Linked DNA regions of Homo sapiens. The protein of the gene in region 3 interacts with the protein of the main gene of each other region in a biochemical or structural test. Each region holds a gene or a part of one and is shown on either strand. Other genes may lie near its edges.

Region 1 (7,582 bases), on a different chromosome or scaffold from region 3:
TGATTCCAATTACATAAAATACCTAGAATATGCAAATTCATGGAGATAGAAAGTAGATTAGAGGTTACCAGGGACTCAAGGAAGATAACAATGGGGAGTTGCTTAATGGATGGAGTTTCTATTTGGGATGATGAAGGGGTTCTGGATATGAATAGTGGTGATGGTTGCAAAACATTATAATTAATGCTACTGAATTGTACACTTAAAATGATTTAAATGGTTAATTTTATATTATATGTATTTTTTACCAGAATAAAAAATGTTGGCTGGGTGTGGTGGTTCATGCCTGTAATCCCAGCACTTTGAGAGGCCAAGGTGGGAAGATCGCTTGAATTCAGGAGTTCAAGACCAGCCTGGGCAACCTAGGGAAACCCGTCTCTACCAGAAAAAAATAGCTGGGCATGGTGACATGTGCCTGTAGGCCCAGCTACTCAGAAGGCTGAGGCAGGAGAATCGCTTCAGCCTGGAAGGTTGAGGCTGCAGTGAGCCATGATTGCCCCCACTGCACTCCAGCCTGGGCAACAGTACAAGATCCTATCTCAAAAAAAAAAAAAAAAAGTAAAGACTGATAAATTGTACCTTATAAAAATAAAATAAATACATAAAATGTGACTAGCAATTTTAAGACACTTAAATATTTGAATTAATTTATTGAATACCTGCTCTGGGAATTAGTGTTGTGTTTCCATTTACAGAGACAAAACAGGTCTAATTGATTGACTAAACAATAGATGTAAATGTGGTCAGTGTTTGGATGTCTATTCATAGAATAGGAACAATTTTTCTGAGAAATGATTTGACTCTCAGCTGTTTCCTGTATGACCTCTCAATTTACATTTTATTCAAGAGTTTCTAATATAATATTGTGGAGCAAAGAAACTTGACAGCAACAGCTGTTGAGAGAAGGTAACTGTCATATTAATATTTCTGGGAAGAGGTATTGCGGTGTTACCAGATTCCAGATTTGCACCTTTTCCCCTCAATCCCTTTATCCCTCTCAAACATTATAGTGATTTATGAAAATATATGTATAATTCCAAATAAGTTTTAGATAATTCCATATATACCAAATACCCAATTATCTCTTTGCTGTCAAAGGGTAATTTATCCTCATCATGACACTTGCCATCATTACAAGTTTAAAGCCTAAAAATGAAAAGAGGTTTCACACATTTAAGAGCTAACTCATTTAATAATAAATCAAAAGTAAGTATGAGTTTCATTTAGTAGTAGCATGAGCTAGCTGCAGGGAAGGTCCTCTCAAGGTGGTCCTTTTTCTTCTCTTCAATAAAGGCAGAACTCTATTAAAGCATATTAGTAAAAACCATATTTAAAAGAATTACTACACTGAACTGAGCAGCCACCAAATGCAATTGGTACCAGGTGATATAAGGGCTTCTCCTCTCAGGGGGCTTATAAGCAACTAAGGCAGGAAGTCACAGATACCATATTCTGCAGTGTAATTTACAAATGAGGTGAAAACAAAGTGTTCCAAAATTCTAAGAGAGACATTGGAATTCTGACCACAAGTGTAATTTATGGAGCCTCAGAGTAATTATAGGATCTGGAACAGCTGGTGCTCAAATTTAGTGGTCCTCCAGTTGCTGGAATCTGCGATTTCTGGGAAGTTAAACTTTGTGTCACTGCTTCTACTTGTGATAAAATGAAACCGCTTTCAAAGAGAAGATTCCTATTCCTAGCCTTTTTGGGTAACTTCTACTACCTCCACTTAAGGATGAAAAGGGAGAAGTTTCCTCCAAGACTGCCTCATGGGGATCAGAGTGTCACCTCCATGCTCCTGCCCTAAGTGCCCCTGAGCACACCCCAGAGGGAGGCTAAGAGATTTTTGAGAAAGACCATGTGACTGGCTGATAAACACCTATTTTCCTCAGATTCCACCTGAATTTATATCATCAGTGCATCACTCTTTTATTTTGTTCTCTCTGTTCCTCTTTTTAAATATTAATATTCTCTGGAGAGGGGTAAAACATTAAATGAATTCACACTGAGGAAACTGGCCAGGTACAATGGCTTATGCCTGTAATTTCAGCAATTTGGGAGGCCAAGGCAGACAGATTGCTTGAGCCCCAGAGTTTGAGACCAGCTTGGGCAACATAATGAGACCTCGTCTCTACAAAAGAAAAACAAAAAAAAAAATTAGCCAAGCATGGTGGCACACACCTGTAGTCTCAGGTATTTGGGATGCTGAGGTGGGAGGATTGCTTTAGCCCAGGAGGTTGAGGCTGCAGTGAGCCATGACCATGCCACTGCACTCCAGCCTGGGTGACACAGCAAAACACTGTCTCAAAAAAAAAAAAGAAACTCTTCAGGCTGATCAGATCTGCTTTTCTCTGATGAGTTTCTTAGGAGCTCTACATTTCTGGTTGCTGCAATAGGCAAAGTATAGAATGGAGGTCAAGGCCTCAAATTTCTCTGACTTCCCAGCTGGGCTTGAGAGTGACTCTGGCCCTCAACTGAGGGCATTAGTAAGCTGTCCTTAAGAACGAGAGTGTATTTTCTGGCTGTATTCTTAACTCATTTCACTATAGAGCCATGTCTGATATTAACAGTGCAGTGCTAGACTAGAGAGGCCTGGCACTCCTACAGCCTTCTCCTGTCTTCTAGCTGGGACTTCACACCACAGACCCAAAGGAAAAGAGACCCAAAGATCCCTGCAGAAACCTGAGAATATTTCCTTTACCTCAGTGGTTTCATAATCTGTTCTTAGTTTCCTGTTTCTGCTGTAAATAATTCACTATATTTTTAAGAGAGAGAAGGTCAGGCCCTTGTGAGCCAGAAGGGATTTGAGAGATGATGAAAGCTACGTATGTTACCCATAACCTAAGGACTTCTGGCAAGGTGGCCTACCTGAGCTGGAGTCATGCCTTTTTTCCCTGGACTTGGAGATACCTGTCAGTGCAGAAAGGCCTACTTTTGATCTTGGAAATAAGTTTCCTGGGGTGAGTTCTTAACCCTTTCCAGCTTTCCCACCCTCTTTGGCTTTAGCCATGGCCTTCTGATCTGTGTTTCTCAGGGGACCTGCAGGCCCCAGATATAGCCCCATGCTGTCCTCCTACCCCAGAGCACACTGTTCAGGCTACTTCCACTGGTACTGAAATCCAGTATTTCACTTACTCTTTTTCTTTCCAATATCCTCATGACATTCAATATTTCACTTACTCTAGGTCCTCCCTGCCTAAGGCCCAAGTCAACTTTCTGTCCAGTGGGATTTGTAATCCAATACCTCCTAGCCCTAGCAGAATCCCATGTGGATAATCAGAAATGTGACTGGAAAAAGGACAGAGCTCTATGGCTGTGGGTCCCAGTCCCCACTGCTGGCAGTAAGTCCCCAGCAGTGAGCTGTGTAAGCACCTTACATTCTGCGCTTGGTTGAAAACAGCAAGGCAAGCATCCACTTGAGAAATGTCAACCCCTAGGAAATCCCAGCCTCAAGTCTTTCTCATCCCTTGGGAAGTGCAAATTGGATAGAGAAGAAACCAATTAAAAACAAAACAAACAAATCATACTTAGATATTCTGGCTTTTCTCACCAGGGCTGGATTAAAGCATGTACTTCAAAATAATAACAACTTAAGTCAATAAATAAATGTAAGGAAGTCCAAATGTTCACCTGAAGACAACTGTGGTCATTTTTTGGCAATCCCAGGTTCTCTTTTCTACCTGTTTGCTCAATCGTGGTCTCCCTCTCCCTCTCTTGTTGGGGCCCATGCCCCTGCTTTACTGTTGCCAGAGGCTTGTACTTGTTTGCCTTTTAGGTAGGAGCAGTTACTTCCACTCCCCTCACCTGCCATAAAGCATCTTTATAAACAAAGCAAGTAGAAGAAACACATCCTGGTATCCACCACATTCGGCTTTTGTTGATTCTGTTCACTTGGGAGCACCTGCTGCTAGGGAATAAGAAGGTTGAGGCTGAAGAGTGAGGACTCTTCAGCTCCCCTCTGGCAGGACCCGGGAGAGGAAAGAGCCCTCAGCTGGTCCATCCTCCCCACTCCTGGTCAGCCTTCTGTTCTGAGATCAAAGTGGTGGGGTCACATTCTCGAGAACTGTGCTCAGCCCCCTCATCTCACACCCTTTCCCTCTCCCTGTGTGCCTGCCCCCCTCTTACATAACCATGCTGGTGATTGGCACCGTCATAAATCAATACTTTGCTCACTTTCACATCAAGTAACACTATCCAGGGAGGTGGTTTCAACAAAGGAGGAAGTATAAGGAGATCTAGGTTCAAATTAATGTTGCCCCTAGTGGTAAAGGACAGAGACCCTCAGACTGATGAAATGCACTCAGAATTACTTAGACAAAGCGGATATTTGCCACTCTCTTCCCCTTTTCCTGTGTTTTTGTAGTGAAGAGACCTGAAAGAAAAAAGTAGGGAGAACATAATGAGAACAAATACGGTAATCTCTTCATTTGCTAGTTCAAGTGCTGGACTTGGGACTTAGGAGGGGCAATGGAGCCGCTTAGTGCCTACATCTGACTTGGACTGAAATATAGGTGAGAGACAAGATTGTCTCATATCCGGGGAAATCATAACCTATGACTAGGACGGGAAGAGGAAGCACTGCCTTTACTTCAGTGGGAATCTCGGCCTCAGCCTGCAAGCCAAGTGTTCACAGTGAGAAAAGCAAGAGAATAAGCTAATACTCCTGTCCTGAACAAGGCAGCGGCTCCTTGGTAAAGCTACTCCTTGATCGATCCTTTGCACCGGATTGTTCAAAGTGGACCCCAGGGGAGAAGTCGGAGCAAAGAACTTACCACCAAGCAGGTATGGTTTTTCTTTCTTTCTCTTTTGCTGGGGGCTGACCGCCCTTCAGCTCCAGCCAAAAGATGTGTGTGAACACAAATATACCTTCTGTTTGAGGTCAGCATCATAGTGGGTCGTGAATCATGTTGGCCTTGCTGCTGTCTCCTCATTTCTAGGGTGGAAAAAAAAAAGCATGAAAACAATCACTTAATGTTGAGCCCCATTACTGATGCTCTCTGGTCCTGCACTAGCCTCCTAGAAAAATCACCACAGGAGAAGCCTTAACTACTGCATGAGTTACCACAAGTCACACATACAACCAGCTCCCTGTTACAGGGCTGGAGTCCCTGGACCCAGGAAATACCACCTCCAAGGACTGTGGGAGCTGGGGACTATGGGAACTGGGATCAACTCAGTCCTGATTCCTTTTGGCCTGCTGGGTTAGTGCTGGCAGCCCCCTGAGGCCAAGGACAGCAGCATGACAGTCACCAGGACTCACCACTTCAAGGAGGGGTCCCTCAGAGCACCTGCCATACCCCTGCACAGTGCTGCGGCTGAGTTGGCTTCAAACCAGTGAGTTTTCTACCTCTACTATTGAAAGGGCACCTTGTCCCACAGAACCGAGTCTTGCCTGCATGTGGTCAGTGCCACCAGGTCCTTCTTCTCTCCACTTTACAGCCCAGCTCGGCTGAAGCTATGGCCAGAGGCACTGCTTTAAGGCCACTCCATATCTAGGACAGGTCAACAGACACCTCTGAGGCCACTGAGTCTTGACTCAATGAATCAGCTATAGCAGGCACTATTCCTCTCCCACATGGCCTCTAATGATATGGTCAGAGTTGAAAGGATGCTAAGGGAGGCCTCAGAGGCTTATTTAATCAGTTGGTTAATGGGAAAAAGTATTTTGTGGTACACAAATACGCTTTAAAAATATTTTAGTTATGTCATAAAAGTCTAAACCTGGGGTTGACAAACTATGGCTCACAGGCTAACTCTGGCCCACCAGCTGTTTTTATAAATGAAGCTTTATTGGAACACAGCCATGCCCATTCGTTATGTATTGTATATGGCTGTTTTTGCCCTACAACATCCTTTCAACTCTGGCCATATCATTAGAGGCCATGTGGGAGAGGAATAGTGCCTGCTATAGCTGATTCATTGAGTCAGCAAAATTGACCAATTGCGAAAGAGACAGTATGGCCCACAAAGCCTAAAATATTAACTATCTGGCCTTTAACAGAAAAAGTTTGCCAACTCCTGATCTAAAAGCTGTCAACTTGTTCCAAAATTATTATGGAATAAACCCAAGACAACCACAAAACTGACTAGACTAGGTTTTTTAGGTAATAACTTTTTAAATTATAAAGTAATACATGATTTCATGCTCCTTGAAAATGAGAAAGCAGTATAGATAAACCTAAATTCACCTTTGGCCATTCTGTCAATCCTAATCTCCAGTTTCCCCAAAAGTACTTAGTGTGATATATTTACTGCCAGACCATTGTGTCTGTGTGTGTGTTCATCTATGCATAGATGGACTATTAAACCTATCTGTTGCCATGTTGTTCTAATTCTGTTTTTCCACTCAATAGCAAGACTTGGAGACTTTCCATATCTGTATAGAGCTCTACTTCATTTATTTTAACTGCTACGTCATATTTCACAGTGTACACTTCTTTTATTTAGCCGTTTTCTTTTCGATAGATATTTAAGCTTTTCCAATTTTTCAGTCTTACCAATGAACCTCACTGTGTTTGTCTGCTTCTAGACATGTGCACGTATTGCACTAGAGGAACTACTAAGACGTTGAATTGCCACATCACAGGATATATGTGGTTCAATTTTTGGCTGCCAAACAGCCCTCCACAGTACCCGAACCGACTGTACTCCCACCAGCAGAGAAGGATAGTTACTGTTCCTCCACACTCCAAACAATGCTTGCTGTTTATTCAGTATTTTATTATTTTTTCCATTGAATTAGTGCAAATGACAACCCATTATTTCAATATTTTAATTTCCCTGATTATTAATGAAGTTGAGCATTCTTTTTATAGGACCCCTCTTGGCCATTGTATTTCTCTTCTTAAATTACCTATTCATATCCTTAGCTTATTTTATGTCGGATTTTTTTTCTTCTTTGTAGGAGTTTTTTATTTATTCTCAATGCAAATTATTTGATATGTGTGTAATATTCTCTCTAAGCTTTGTTTAAATCATACTTTTTAGCCAACAGAAATTTTTACTATTATTGTTGTTGTTATTTTGATGTAGTTGAATCTGTTAGTTTCCCTCTTTCTGGATTTTACTCTTTGAGGCTGATTTTTAAAAGATTTCTCAACTTCCAAAATTATGAAGCTACTTTGGTGCACCTTCCTGTAATACTTTTATTTAAAAAGTTAGTCTTTATTCACCTGGCACTTATTGCAATACATTATTTCAATACTATTTATTGAAAAGTCCATCTTTTTCCTATTTGTTTGAAATATCACCTCTATCATGTACTAAATTCCCACTTACACATGTCCATTTCTGTGTCCTTTTGTATTTATTTCCTATTCCTGAGCCAATTTCCACTATAATGTTTACCTTTTCTACTTGATTTTTTCCCCCAATAAATAGAAAATCTATTTTGTGTTTTGATATTTTGCCTAGTTACCTTATGGAATTCTCTTAATAGTTATAAAAGCTTATCAGTTGATTCCTTTGGAATTTCTAGTTAGACAAACATATCATCTATATATAGTAAGAGTTTTGCTCCTTCCTTTCCAATCTTTACAAACCTTAATTTTTTGTGTCTTATTGGTTTTTCTTTGCCATTCAG
Region 2 (7,022 bases), on a different chromosome or scaffold from region 3:
AGTGTCTTGCTACTACTTGACAACCATATATAATGTTTATATTACGTTCATATAAAATTGTCCTTTTACTCTTGGAATTCGACATACTGTTAGGATTTTCACAAATTAGTTTAAGGCAGAGCAGGACAAGGCCCAGAAAAGGGTGGCTGATGTAATCAGGAAACTGGGTAGGTTCTATTTGAAGATGATATAAAAAGAAATAAAACTGTTTTGAAAAAGATGGGGTCTTAAGAGAAGATAGTAAAAAAGTTTATAAACAGAGTGCTTGACCTTCTTTTCCTATTCACTCACTGCCATAAAGATAAGAGAGGGGCTTATTTAGGGGAATATAGTAAGTTTGTTAAATCCCAGCATTTAAATATTGTAAGGTACTCTTGGAGCAGGTGTTATTAAACTTTTTGGTTTCAAGATACCTTTACCATATTAATAATTACTGAGAACTCTAAAAGGCTTTTGTTTTTGTGTTATATCTATCAGTATTAGAAATTAAAACAGAAAATGTAAAAATATTTATGCATTAAAAATGTGGGCCAGGCACAGTGGCTCATGCTTGTAATTTCAGCACTTTGGAAGGACGAGGTGGGCAGATCACTTGAGGTCCGAAGTTTGAGACCAGCCTGGGCAATGTGGTGAAACCCCATCTCTACTAAAAATAGAAAAATTAGCCGGGGGTGGTGTTACGCACCTGTAGTCCCAGCTACCTGGGAGGCTGAGGCAGGAGAATCAATTGAACCCAGGAGGCAGAGGTTGCAGGGAGCTGAGATCACGCCACTGTACTCCAGCCTAGGCGACAGAGCAAGTCTTCATCTCAAAAAAAAAAAAGTGAACCCATTGCATGTTTGCGTTATTCATGAAAAATTTCCAAAATAAAACCAGATAATTTTAGCAAGTTTGAAAAAATGTCTGGCCTAATATCTCATATCTGCTTCTGTATTCAGTTTTTGTGACATCACATCATCTCTGGAAGACTCTCTTACTATGCAATGAGAGAATGAGAGTGCAAAAGGAAAGTGACATCTTATTATTACGAAAATAGCTTTGACTTCACAGGACCTTCTGAAAGGGTCTCAGACTTCTAGAGGTCTCCAGACTATACTTTGAGAAGTGCTGTTTTAGAATATTGGAAAAGTAGGTTATTATATTTATTTGGAGAATTGTTTAAAAAGTGATGATAGGCCAGGCGTGGTGGTTCATACCTGTAATCCCAGCACTTAGGGAGGCTGAGACGGGCAGATTGCTTGAGATCAGGAGTTCGAGACCAGCCTGGGCAATATGGTGAAACCCCATCTCTACCAAAAATAAAAAAAATTAGCCTGGTGTGTTGCCGCATGTCTGTAGTCCCAGCTACTAGGGACGCTGAGGTGGGAGGATTGCTTGAGCCCAGGAGGTAGAGAATGCAGTGAGCCAAGATGGTGCCACTGCACTTTAGCCGGGGCAACAGAGCAAGACTCTGTCTCCAAAAAAAAAAAAAAAAAAAAGATGACAGCTTACAAGATAACTAGAAAGGGTATAAATACATTTTTTAAACTGGTACATCTGTGTTTATTTATTTTTTTGTTGGTTTTGGAGACAGAGTCTTGCTCTGTTGCCCAGGCTGGAGTGCAGTGGCAGGATCTTGGCTCACTCCAACCTCCACCTCCCAGGTTCAAGTGATTCTTGTGCCTCAGTCTCTGAAGTAGCTGGGATTACAGACACGCACCACCAAGCCCAGCTACTTTTTGCATTTTTTAGTAGAGACGGGGTTTTGCCATGTTGGCCAGGCTGGTCTCGAACTCCTGGCCTTGAGTGATCTGCCTGCCTCAGCCTCTCAATGTGCTGGGATTATAGGCATGAAACACGGTCCGGCCTGTATTTGGATTATTGAAAAAATATGTCCTTGATTTTAAAAATTTATTTTTAGAAATAAAATTAATAAATGTTTCTGCTTTAGAATATGCAGAATCTTTTAAAGAGAAAAGAAAATTACTCTTAGCATTCACTACGTAATATTTGCAAATACACATAATTAATATTATACTTTTAATCAAATTCATCTTTTTTATGAATATTTTCAAAACATAGAAAGGCACAGAGAATAGTTTAACAACTGCTCCATCATTAACCAGGATTGGCATGTTGTTGTATTTGCTTTTGGCTCAGTTCTTTTTCTGCCTCCCCAGAGTCACCCATCTTCTGAATTTGAACCATATTCTCCCCACTCATGTTTTTATACTATATATATCTGTGTGTTCATAAATAATAACGTCATACTGCTTTGCATGTTTTTAAATTATAAATATTTTCCTAAGTTCATCTTTCACAGCTTGCTTTTTTTACCCTTATATTCTTGAGATTTATATATGTTGATATTTATTTAAAATGCTGTATTTCTATACTGCAGTTTATTCTGCCATTGATGGCTAATTTAGTGTTTTTGTTTGGTTTTTTTGGCTATTAAATAAATGGTATCATGAACCTCCTTTTGGAGGCTCTCTTGAGGATATGATGTAGAGCATCTGGTTTGTAGGGTGTCTGTGTTCTTACCTTTATTGGATATTGCCAAATTGCTTCTAAAAATGTTCATACCATTGTCATCCCCCACCAGCAATATATAGGAGCTTTCATTTCTCTACTTTTTTTTTTCTTTTTTTTTTTTGAGGCAGAGTCTTGCTCTGTCACCCAGGCTGGAGTGCAGTAGTGGTGCAATCTCGGCTTATGGCAACCTCCGCCTCCTGGGTTCAAGCGATTCTCCTGCTTCAGCCTCCTGAGTAACTGGGACTACAGGCGCCCACTACCATGCCCAGCTAATTTTTGTATTTTTAGTAGAGACAGGGTTTCACCATATTGGCCAGGCTGGTCTTGAACTCCTGACCTCGTGATCCACCTGCCCTGGTCTCCCACCACACCCAGCCGGTTTTTTCTTTTTTAACTACAAAAGACATCCAACATTTCTCTACTTTCTTGCCAGTACTTGGTATTGTCAGATTTTTAATTTTATATCTTACATTTTTTATTTTTATATCATTAATGTTGTATTTTGAACCCTTTCCCTCATTCTTTAGGGTTCTTTGAAAATGATTGTCAATGGCTGTAGTTTATGAGTGTACTATACTCTAACACATATGGTGCTCTTGTCTATGTGGGTTTTCTCATTCTTTTGCTATTTTAATGTGGCTAATGAACATCTTAATACATAAATTCTTCTGATTATTTCTTTCTTTCTTTTTTTTTTTTTTTTTGAAACGGAGTCTCACTGTGTTGACCAAGCTCGAGTGCAGTGGTGTGATCTTGGCTCACTGTAGCCTCTGCCTCCCAGATTCAAGCAGTTCTTCCTGCCTCAGCCTCCTGAGTAGCTGGGATTACAGATGCCCACCACCATGCCTGGCTGGTTTTTGTATTTTTTAATAGAGATGGGGTTTCAACATGTTGGCCAGGCTGGTCTTGAATTCCTGACCTCAGGTCATCCGCCTGCCTCAGCCTCCCAAATTGTTGTGATTACCGGCGTGAGCCACTGCACCCGGCCTGAGTCTTTTTTCTTTTCTTTTTTTTTTTTTGTGGAGACAGAGTCTCTCTCTGTGGCCCGAGCTGGAGTGCGGTGGCTCAATCTCAGCTCACTGCAACTTCCGCCTCCTGGGTTCAAGCAATTCTCCTGCCTCAACCTCCCGAGTAGCTGGGACTACAGGCGCCCGCCACTAAGCCTGGGTAATTTATTTTTTTAATTTTTATTTTAGTAGTGACAGGGTTTGGCCATGTTGCCCAGGCTAGTCTTGAACTCCTGAGCTCAGGCAATCTGCCCGCCTCAGCCTCCCAAAGCACTAGGATTACAGGCATGAGACCACGCCTGGCCCTGGCCTGATTATTTCTTTAGGACAGATTGTCAGAGGTGAAATTTCTAGGACAAGGTTTATGAACATTTTAAGAATCTTGTTTCATATTTCCAGATTACTTTCTTTTTCTTCTTTTTTTTCATTTTTCTTTTTTTTTGTTTTTCGAGACAGGCTCTCACTCTGTTGCCCAGACTGGAGTGCAGTGGTGTAATCACGGCTCACCACAGCCTCAACTTCCTGGGCATAGGTGATCCTCCCACCTCAGCCTCCTGAGAAGCTGGGACTACAGGCACGTGCTACCACACCCGGCTAATATCTTATATTTTTTTTTTATAGAAAAAGATAAAACCATGTTGCCCATTCTGGTCTCAAACTCCTGGGTTCAAGTGATCCTCCCACCTTGGCCTCCTAAAGTGTTGGGATTATAGGCTTGAGCCACCGTGCCTGGCCTCCAGATTACTTTCTGGAAAGAGTGTACTAATTTCTACTCTCACCAAAACTTTGAGAGTACGTGTCTCTATATGTTTTCACTAGGATGAAAGGATTCAGGATTATTCTATGTTTTTTATCATAGAAGTTTAATAGGTAAAAATTCCATTGCTATATTTTTTGGAAGTAATGTCATGGTGACTATAAAATCCTCTCTTGATGCGACAGCTTGAGATAGAGCCACACTGGTAGTGCTTCTGATTTATTGTCTCTGTGTGTATGTGTCTATCTGTCTGTGTGTCTCTCTCTCTGTCTCTCTTGATTCTTGTGGCTATACTCTAATTTCCCTTTGACTAATTCTTCCTGTCCAGGAATGACACTGTGCGCTTTGCTTTGGATGTCCTGGCTATTCTTACTGTGGTGCCAAAAATCCAGCTCCAGTTGGCAGAATCAGTGGACGTGTTGGATGAGGCTGGATCTACAGTCTCTACTGTAGGTAGGTTGTACTTTGCCATTTTTGTTGTTTCTTGGTCTGGATTTGTTTTTTCTTTGCCACTCTGGTCTTGGTTACTTACCTGACCTAATTTTGGATTTTAGAACAGAAGTAGTAGAGGGGGGCTCCTTGTCTGTCCTTTATAAGGAGTACCATTCAGCAGATCAGGAACTAATTTAAAAAAAAAAACCAAAAAACAAAAATACAAATGTAGGACCAGATAGTTTGATGTAAGGGAGTCATGCTAGTAAACTCAGGTTTTCTGAGTGGTACTGGCATTTCTGCTATAATGGTATATTATAGCTTTCCTGAAAAGCTCACACTCTGAAGAGTCTTGCACTAAAAATAAAGTTCATGGGAAAAATGGGTTGAGGCAGATAGTAAAAAACTTAAGCATCACAGCTTTCCAGGAGTTAAAGGGAAAAAAAAACAACAAAGTAAGCAGTTTTGTAACCTGAGTCAGTAATTGGCAGGTAGCTCAAAATGGGTAGAAACCGTCATACATATATAAAAAAAGGAAAATATACTTTGATAATATACTTTATTAAGAGCAAGGCTGATCAGGGCACTGCTGGGGTGAGCATGGGAAGTCGTGTGATGGGACAAGATGCAGGATAGGACTAAGACACAGGCACTTGGTTTTTAATTTTCTTAAAATAGAGTGGAAAGGGTTCTGCTTCCACAGTAGCAGCCCAACCGAGGGCTTTCTCCGTTCCTAAGGTTTTAGTGTATTAAAATTAATAAACCAGAAAAGGTCGAGCACAGTGGCTCACACCTGTAATCCCAAAACTTTGGGAGGCCGAGGCGGGTGGATCACCTGAGGTCAGGAGTTCCAGACCAGACTGGCCAACATGGTGAAACCCCACCTCTACTAAAAATACAAAAATTAGCTGGGCGTGGTGACAGGCGCCTGTAATCCCAGCTCTTTGCAGGGATGAGGCAGGAGAATCACTTGAACTCGGGAGGCGGAGGTTGCAGTGAGCCAAGATCACGCCACTGCACTCCAGCTTGGGCGACAGAGCGAGACTCTGCCTCAAAAAAATAATAAAACCAGAAAAAATTGCACATGAACCTTGATTACTTTTCCATAATTATGACATGATTTCCCTATTTAATAACTGCATATGAGATACCATAAAAATACATTGTAGTAGAACTGTCTGCACTTTATACAAACCCTTGCAGTTTTTACAAAAGTAATATAGTTTTTTAAAGTAAAAGTGAGTAGAACACCAAATTTTGACTCTGGAACAACTATTGAAGTTGGCCATTAGTTTTATGGTGAATAATACATAATTTTTTTTCCCATTAGGTATCAGCATTATTTTGGGAGTGGCTGAGGGTGAGTTCTTCATCCATGATGCTGAAATTCAGAAGTCAGCACTTCAGATTATCATCAATTGTGTGTGTGGCCCAGATAACCGAATATCCAGTATTGGTAAATTTATCTCTGGTACTCCTCGGAGAAAGCTGCCTCAGAACCCTAAAAGCAGTGAGCACACCCTGGCCAAGATGTGGAATGTGGTTCAGTCCAACAACGGCATCAAGGTGCTCCTGTCCTTACTGTCCATTAAGATGCCCATCACAGATGCAGACCAAATCCGGGCCCTGGCCTGCAAAGCCCTAGTGGGCCTGTCTCGCAGTAGCACTGTCCGGCAGATCATCAGTAAACTGCCCCTTTTCAGCAGCTGCCAGATCCAGCAGCTGATGAAGGAGCCTGTGCTGCAGGACAAGCGCAGTGACCATGTCAAGTTCTGCAAGTATGCTGCTGAACTCATTGAACGGGTGTCAGGAAAACCACTTCTCATTGGCACTGATGTTTCCCTAGCACGACTGCAGAAAGCAGATGTTGTTGCCCAGTCAAGGATCTCCTTCCCTGAGAAAGAGCTGCTTTTGTTGATACGAAACCATCTTATTTCTAAAGGGCTTGGAGAAACAGCAACCGTGCTGACAAAAGAGGCTGACCTGCCCATGACTGCTGCCTCCCATTCTTCTGCCTTTACCCCAGTCACTGCTGCTGCTTCTCCTGTCTCTCTACCCCGAACCCCTCGTATCGCTAATGGCATTGCAACTCGTCTGGGCAGCCATGCTGCTGTGGGTGCCTCTGCGCCTTCTGCCCCTACTGCTCATCCTCAGCCACGGCCCCCCCAGGGTCCGCTAGCTCTGCCCGGCCCATCTTATGCAGGCAACTCCCCTTTGATTGGTAGAATCAGTTTTATCAGAGAGAGGCCATCACCCTGCAATGGCAGGAAAATCAGAGTGTTGCGGCAGAAGTCGGACCATGGTGCCTACAG
Region 3 (7,871 bases):
TCTGTGGTCCTTGTAACCTTTCCTGTACTATGAAATCTGCTATGTTATAGAAATAAAATCAAAACTAAACCACCATCGAAACCCAAATTCACACCTTCAAAGTCAAGCATCTAATAATTAACAGCATACCGAAGTTTACACACACGTTAAAAACAAGTAAATCTGGCATATGCCACAGCAAAATACAGGCCTCCATTATGAGGAGTACTGAGAAGCACATTCGCATCCTTCCTTTTCTGGTGCACCACAGGCTCTCCCTCCAGTGGAGACTTGTCGTTTCATCTACTTTCATTACATGTATTTCAATTGCAAAGAGGCTCTGATCAAGCAAAGCCCATCCTTACAAAATTGGAATCCACATGCAAACCAAATAGTTCTTTTTCCAGCTCACACCATGTCATGTGATTACATCAACACATAGCAAAAAACTGGGTATTATATTTTCCAAATTGTCAGATGATCCCAAACAAAAAAATCCAAACCCCTAAAATCAATGGCAGTCCCTTAAATATCACTGTGACAAGAACACTTAACAGTAATATACAGAATCATCCATCCTACTATACCATCCACAGTCCAACACAGGTTAGTTAACCTCTGTGCAATGAATTCCCAGCCCCTGGGACCAGATGTGTCAGGATAGAGAGACAGACAGAGGGAGGGGGAAGATAGTAACAGCAACAAAACATTTTCCTACGAAACTTGCACACATCTCTCCAAGTCTAACAGGTGCAACTACAGTCTAGACATCCCCTCACAGTTCTCTGACAAACAAGTTTCCCCATAACATATGTCCCCAGAGCTACTCCCCTGTAGACCGGAGATGGCCTTTTCTTCAAGAACTCAACTTTCACTTAGCAAATAAAACCAATCCCTAGCAAGCCTCCCTCACACAGAACCATCTTAGGCTGTTCCTGTGGAAAATCCAATTGGGAAAAAAAGACCTCCAAACCATCACCTCCTCCAAGTGCAGACCTCCTCCAGGCTGGCCATCACCATCCAAGGGTGATCCCTGGGAGCTGAGAAAAGGTACATGCTTTAGTCGAATCCAGCTTGCCAGTCTCCGCAGCCACCAGCAACCAGTCCCACGCTGGCCTCTCCCCTCCCAGAGACCACAGCACCTGTTAGGTGCTTTTTCTTTCCCACCTCCAAAGCAACGCTTGCCCTTTCCTTTTGAATAATGTCCAACTGCAGAATCCTACAGGGGTGGCTTGTTTTGACTGCTGCGGCGGCCCTTATTTTTGTTAATGTTGATTACAATTTCTGCTGTGCTCAAACCTGTAGCACTCATAAAACATGCTTACACACGCGGGGGACAATTGGCGATGCTCCCTGCTGGCTGGAGCCAGGCCTGGGAGGCTCTTTGGGGGATCGATTTTCCGGGCAGGCCGGTCTGGCTGTCCCCTAACACGTATCTGTTTCTATAAATACCCACTACCCACGGGGAGGTGGGGGAAGGACAGAGATGTTTACCGGGTCAGGGAAGGGAACTCTGGGATGCAAGGACGAAAAATGAGGAAAGAAGGAAAGCAGCAAGGAGGAAGTTCCTAGGAAGAGGAGGTCATGGGTGGGCGAGCTCTGGAGGGGAAGTAAGGGGCCCACGCCACGAATCTTCCTTTGTGGCTGCAGCTTTGGGCTCGCCCAACTTAACCAGGGCGGCGTCGACGAGAGACCATCGGCCCGAGGCGTGGGGCTGCTTGTATCTCGACCCCTCTTCTCCCGGCGTCAGACCCCTCCAAGTCCGGGTGCTTCGGCCTGGGGCCCCTCCCGCCCCCACCGCCCGGGCCGCCCGCGGGCTGGGTCTCACCGTGTGGGCTGCGGCGGCAGCGTTGCTGGCCCGGAGAGGCGGCAGGGCGATGGGGGAGGGCGGGCCAGTCCCCACTCCGCTCCGGGTGGCCCCTGCACCGAGCCCCGGGGAAGCCTGAAGCTGACGAACGGCGCTGTCCCCACCTCGGCCTGGAAGCCACGTGCGGGAGGAGACAAAAGAGGGTCAGGGGGGAGAAAGTCACCCAGACCCCCCCTCCAACCCCGCTGGGCAGCGACAACCCTCTTCCAAAGAAAGACGGAGGAAGAGACCGGGGCAGTAAAAACGGGCGTTCGGGTCACGGCTCCCCAGCGCACACCCACGGGCGGGGCGCGGGCAGCTGCAAAGTTAAGTGGGGCCCTGGCGCGCGAGTTCGCGACCCGGCGGGGGAGCCGGGCCGCGCCGGGGCTAGGCGGCCCACGTTGCAGACGGCCAGCAGCCGGGAGGTGGGTTTGGACAGCTGAGCAGGGAGCCACGGCCACGCCAAGCCCCGGGCAGCGCAGGGCGGGGCGGCAGGCCTGGACGGTCCCCGCCCGGGCCCCCGGCAGGCAGAAGCCTCTTCGGGCCGAGGGCTCCCCGCGGAGGGGCCTTCGGGGCCGCGCACAACCCTGCATGGAGCCCGGGGCGCGTCGTCCGCCCGGGGGCTCCCCCGCGCCGCGCCGCCGACTTTGTTCGAGGTCCCGCAGGCAGCGGCCGCCCGCGCCACAGGGGCTGCCCAGGGCCGGCGGGGGTCCGGGGATGCGGCGCGGCGGCACGGCCTCCTTACCGGTCGGGTAGGCGGCGGGAGCGGCGGCCGAAGGTTTCCTGGTTAACATGGCCGCTGGAGAGGAAAATGCATTTCAGGGCTGCCGTCGCCGCCGCCGGTCCTGCTGCTACTTCTGGCGGCCGCCGCCGCCGCCTCCCGGCCGCCCCTCGCGCGGGTCCCCGGCGCCTCGTCGCCGCCTCGCGTCTGCTACAGCCAGACACACACAGTCCACTGCATCCCCTCGGCCGGGGCCCGCCGCCGCGAGCCCCCCGCTCTCCTCCTCGCCGCCGTCCTCCTCTTCCTCGGGCGGCTGCAGCACCCTCCGGCCCGTGCACATGCCTCGCCCTCCCCTGCGCGCCGCGGGCCTCCCCGTCTCCCTCACATAGGGGCGCGGGGAGCTGGAAGCGCTGCGAGGACCGAAGACCGCCTGGCTCGGGAGCCTCTCCCGGGCCCGCGCGCGCGCGCCCCCGCGCACTCACACACAGGCGCCGGCGCGCGGCCCCGCCCCCGCCGCCCTCCGCCGCCCTCCTCCGCCGCCGCAGGCCCCGCCCCCGGCTCCCCCGGCCGCGGCCACGCACACCCCACCCCCACCCAACCTCCCGCCCGGCTCCTCTCAGTCCCCCGGTTTGCGCGCAGCCGCCCCTCCGCTCCCCGGAAAACTCGGCGGCCTCCGCTCGCCCTCCTCCGCCCCCTCCGGCCATCTGCACTGCTTCCCTCGGCTCCACTCCGGCGACCTTTTCCCCTCCCCGGCCCCGCGGCGCCCCTTCTCTGCCCTACAGCTCAACCTACCGCTGCTGCCCTCCGGCCGAAAGCGCCGCAGAGACCCCTCCCCTGCCATGCGCACCCCTAAACATAAATGCATTTTCAGCTCTTCGAACTGAATGGCTGCTCACAGACAGTACTGCTTCCCCGTCCCCCCATTCTTGGTCCCAGCGACTTAGCCACTCCCCTCTCCCCAATTCATCATGTAGATAACTTAGTTGTGCGAGGGTCACCTCGGAGAGGCAAGTCCCGGGAGGGGCGGCCGCTGAGCTCGTTGACCCTGAGCAGGGGCGAAAGAGGGGGCTGCCCTCCCACCTCCACCACACACCCTCCCCGGTTTACTGACACCAAGTGACCGCTCGCCAGTCGCTAGGACAAGGGGAGGCAGAGAGGCGCGTGTGGACGGCAGCTGGGGAAGCAGTTGGCTGTGGGTTGCTAGGCAAAAATAAACATCAGAGACATCTCCTATTTCCTTACAACTCCGAGCCTTTCCCCTGCGCGGCCACTGGGAGAGACACACCTTCCTTTCAGCTCTGCGGTGAGGGAGCGACACCTCGAATTCCTCTCACCCCACCCGACACATCTCTTTCCCCCTTCCCTTCCAAGACACGTGGAGAATTTCCCTGCCTTTTTTATTCGCCATATACAACCTCTCTTTTCCTTGAAGACCAAAAAAAAATTGCTTTCCCGTCTCACATCCGCGCCTCGTCGTGCGTGGCACACAGTGCGCCTCTGTTCAAAGGTCACAGGTTTTGCCACTTCAACTGTGAGAGGAGGTGGGGTGGGAAAGCCCGACAAATCCCGGATGACGGGGCAGAGTTATGCCATGCACTTCCTTCTCGAGAGGTGCCTAGTTTCTGAAGTTCTCTTGGGGCCAGGGGTCCATTATGCTCTGCCCCGCCCGAGTATCTCTGGCTCCTGGCTGGACCTACTGTGCAGGCCCGAACTAGTGCAGACTCCAGTCGGAAGGGAGCCACCTCCTGCGGAGTTTCATCCACTCTACTGTTTGCAAATTGTCATAGCAACCTCCTACAGAGCGCATCCGCAGCTTTATACAAACGCCAAAAACTGTTTCAAGGTACAGTGTGACCCTCTCAGAGTCTCTGGGACTCCTAAAGAGGCCTCCAAGTTAGGGTCACTGGGAGAGGGAACCTGTGACAAAAAGAATTTTCCCTAGTATTACGTCCCTCCAAACAAAACAAAACAAAACAAAACAAAACAAAACACCCTTTCGGGGCCTTCTCCTAATAAAGTAGACCCACAGTAAAATAATCCAATAATATGCCTTTAGAGGAATCATGACCTGAACTGACCCTAGCAAGAAATATCCCCCTATGCTTGTCACTGGCGACCATCACATTTAAATCCACATGCGGAAGCATATTTAGTGTTTAGAATCGACTAAAAGAAAAGGGCTACTAAGTAGCAGAGATGACACTAGAACCGGTTTTCTGACTCCCAGTCTGATTTCACTATGACTTCCATCACACTACTTTCCTTACACTTTCAAGAAAGCTCACACCTCTTTTTTCTCCTTTCAAAACAATTATTTTCATACCATTTTCCTTTTTAAAATGAGTACTCCATACAACTGATGTTCAAATAAAAAAATGAAACAAAAAAATCAATTTTAATATAATATGACACCCCTTTTTGCTTAAGTTATTCGTACAATACTTCAGTAGAAGCTAAATATGCCACTGTTTTCTCATGAATAAAATAAATGCTAGTTACTGGAAGCCATAGTTTACGATTTCCAAATTAGTAATATTAATTTACTCATTTAACATGAGGAAAAGGAGCACTGATTCTTTTTTTTTTTTTTTTTTGACAAAGGATCACAATCATTAACTTTAAGAAAGAAAAAGACAATAGGGAACTTTTTGTAGTATATTGTTTTATATCATGACAAATATAATTTCAATTTTGTATATTTTTTGTGGCTTAACATAAGGAAATATTGCAGTTGACCTACCCCATAGCTATTTTGATTATAAATGGTACATCTTTGAAAATTATATTAATTTTTACTGACCTCTAAGTGACTATTAACCATTGCTTAGATTTTCCTCATTCTGTTAAATATTCTATTAAATATTGACATCTCCCTGAGTGAATGTTAAATAGAAAAGCTGTACAAACACACTCCTGGGGCTTTGGGGAGAGTGAAGTGGGTAAATTTGGGGAGTTATTTCCCTCAAATTTTATTATCATAATGCATCATTATCAATTATCTCATATAATTACACATATTTTGATCTCTTTATAAAACACTTTCACAAATATTACCATGTTTAATCTTCATAACTCCACCAGAGCAGATTTCATTTTAAATAGGAACCTCCTTAAAAGCTTCATTCAGTTAGCAAGAGACTGCTCTTTGGTTTTCACCCATTGTAAAAACTCTGTGTGTTCTATATGTTTAAAATCCAGATTCAGATAACAAGGAGGTAGGCAGGATCTAGCAGGAGTAGAGAGAAACAGGAGAACTCAGAATAGAGCCTTGAGGAAGAAAGTTGATTTTTCACTGGGCAAAGTACTGATCACAAGGAAAATTGGAAATGAACATAAAAATTGCTGGTTTCAAAACACATTTACTCATTTAATCCCCTTATCCCAGAAACATTTACAAAGAATTTAGTATGTGCTAGGCCTAGGAGACATGATGAATCATCAAATGCAGTAGACTACACTTCAGTCTGGCAATCTATTAGGAACTCATTCTTGTTTTGTTTTGTTTTTGTTTTTTTGAGACAGAATTTCACTGTGTTGCCCAGGCTGGAGTGCAGTGGCACAATCTCAGCTCACTGCAACCTCTGCCTCATGGTTCAAGTGGTTCTCCTGCCTTAGCCTCCCGAGTAGCTGGGACTACAGGTGCCCACCAACACGCCTAGCTAATTTTTGTATTTTTTGTAGAGACGGGGTTTCACCACGTTGGCCAGGCTGGTCTCCAACTCCTGACCTCAAGTGATCCACCTGCCTCGGCCTCCCAAAGTGCTAGGATTACAGGCGTGAGTCACCACACCTGTCCAGGAACTCATTCTTTTATTCAATTAAGCAATAAGCTATAAGAACCTAACATATTTTTGGCACCGTTGGTGGAATGTTATGGTCTGAATGTTTGTGTACGCCCCAAATTTATATTTTGAAATCCTAACCCACAATGTGATGGTATTAGGAGGTGGTTAGATCAAGTGACTGCAGAGAGTTAGTAGCCTTTTCCACCATGTGGGGACACAGAGAGCAGGCACCATTTATGAACAAGGAAACAGGCCCTCACCAGACACTAAATCTGCCAGCACCACGCTCTTGAACTTTCCAGCCTCCAGAACTGTGAGAAACAAATTTCTGTTTGTTACAGTTACCCAGGTTATAGTATTTTGTTATAGTAGCCCTAACAAACTAAGACATGGGGCTACACAGTTAAATAATCCCTGGCTCTGGTCACTGCTACTAGGAAGTTCACAGTTCCGTACGGGAGACCAGACATTTAATGAAGTGAAAAGAGTGGTAAAGAAGGCATATAGGAGTCACAGAGATAGCACACAGGAGAGAGGGACGAGCTCCACTTAAGTGGTGTCTGGCAGGGGCTGTGCTTCAGTGGAGGTTTTAAAGACGCGTGGGAATTTGCAAGTTAGGCGAGACAGGTTAGGACATTCCAAGTGGAAGAAATAGGATGTTCAGAAGCGTCAAGTTGTAAGAAAGCATGATGTGTCCCAGGGGAAGGGGAAGCAATTCAGAATAGAGGAAACTTGGGGTGCCAGGCAGAGGGGTGGTACTGCTATCTTCCTAGGGTTAGGTTTATGGATAGATCAAGTCAGGTTAAGAATTATCCTAAACTTGGCCAGGCATGATGGCTCATGCCTATAATCCCAGTGCTTTGAGAAGCTGAGGAGGGAGGACCAGGAGTTTGAGACTAGCCTGGACAACATAGCAAGACCCTGTCTCCACAAAAAAAGTAAAAATAAAGAAATATTCTAAACTTTATCTGCTATGGATATGTGAAAACAAGGTGCAGGGGCTTTTGGAGCAGCTAGATAAATTATTAAGGAACTGACTCATTTTGGTGAAGGTGGATCTAACTCCCTTTAAGAGAACACCAGGCCAGGTGCAGTGGCTCATGCCTGTAATCCCAGCACTTTGGGAGGCCGAGGCGGGTGGATCACTTGAGGTCAAGAGTTTGAGACCAGCCTGGCCAACATAGTGAAACCCTGTTGCTACTAAAAATTCAAAAAAATTAGCCAGGCATGGTGGCGGGCACCTGTAATCCCAGCTACTGGGAGGCTGAGGCAGGAGTATTGCTTGAACCCAGGAGGTGGAGGCTGCAGTGAGCCAAGATTGTGCCACTGCACTCCAGCCTGGGAGACAGAGTAAGACTCCATCTAAAAAAAAAAAAAAAAAAAAAAAAGAGAACACCACTAACTGGCGGTACCTTCTATGTCTCCATCACCAAGGTCCAGAACTACCTAGAAAAGAATATGAAGACCTTATGGCCTAAAGTCTACTAATGTAAACTTTTCAGAAGTAGGAGGCATGGCCGTCATAACCAAATGGCTACAA

The links. The genes of interacting proteins can lie anywhere in the genome.
Region 1: of the proteins of DYRK2 (region 3) and NR1I2, one has a biochemical effect on the other in vitro, tested with the Homo sapiens proteins (one study listed by BioGRID).
Region 2: the proteins of DYRK2 (region 3) and DCAF1 form a complex in vitro, tested with the Homo sapiens proteins (one study listed by BioGRID).

The regions. Positions count from the first base shown.
Region 1 is NC_000003.12:119,777,519-119,785,100, forward strand, and holds the start of NR1I2 (nuclear receptor subfamily 1 group I member 2), read left to right. Parts: upstream 1-4,582; 5' UTR 4,583-4,782; intron 4,783-5,191; exon of another isoform or gene 5,192-5,239; coding exon of another isoform or gene 5,240-5,334; intron 5,335-7,582. UniProt on the Homo sapiens protein: Nuclear receptor that binds and is activated by variety of endogenous and xenobiotic compounds.
Region 2 is NC_000003.12:51,420,016-51,427,037, reverse strand, and holds part of DCAF1 (DDB1- and CUL4-associated factor 1), read left to right. Parts: intron 1-1,029; exon of another isoform or gene 1,030-1,128; intron 1,129-4,606; coding exon 4,607-4,731; intron 4,732-6,040; coding exon 6,041-7,022. UniProt on the Homo sapiens protein: Acts both as a substrate recognition component of E3 ubiquitin-protein ligase complexes and as an atypical serine/threonine-protein kinase, playing key roles in various processes such as cell cycle, telomerase regulation and histone modification.
Region 3 is NC_000012.12:67,643,882-67,651,752, reverse strand, and holds the start of DYRK2 (dual specificity tyrosine-phosphorylation-regulated kinase 2), read right to left. Parts: upstream 3,009-7,871; 5' UTR 2,620-3,008; coding exon 2,571-2,619; intron 1,957-2,570; coding exon 1,808-1,956; exon of another isoform or gene 959-1,807; intron 1-958. UniProt on the Homo sapiens protein: Serine/threonine-protein kinase involved in the regulation of the mitotic cell cycle, cell proliferation, apoptosis, organization of the cytoskeleton and neurite outgrowth. Functions in part via its role in ubiquitin-dependent proteasomal protein degradation.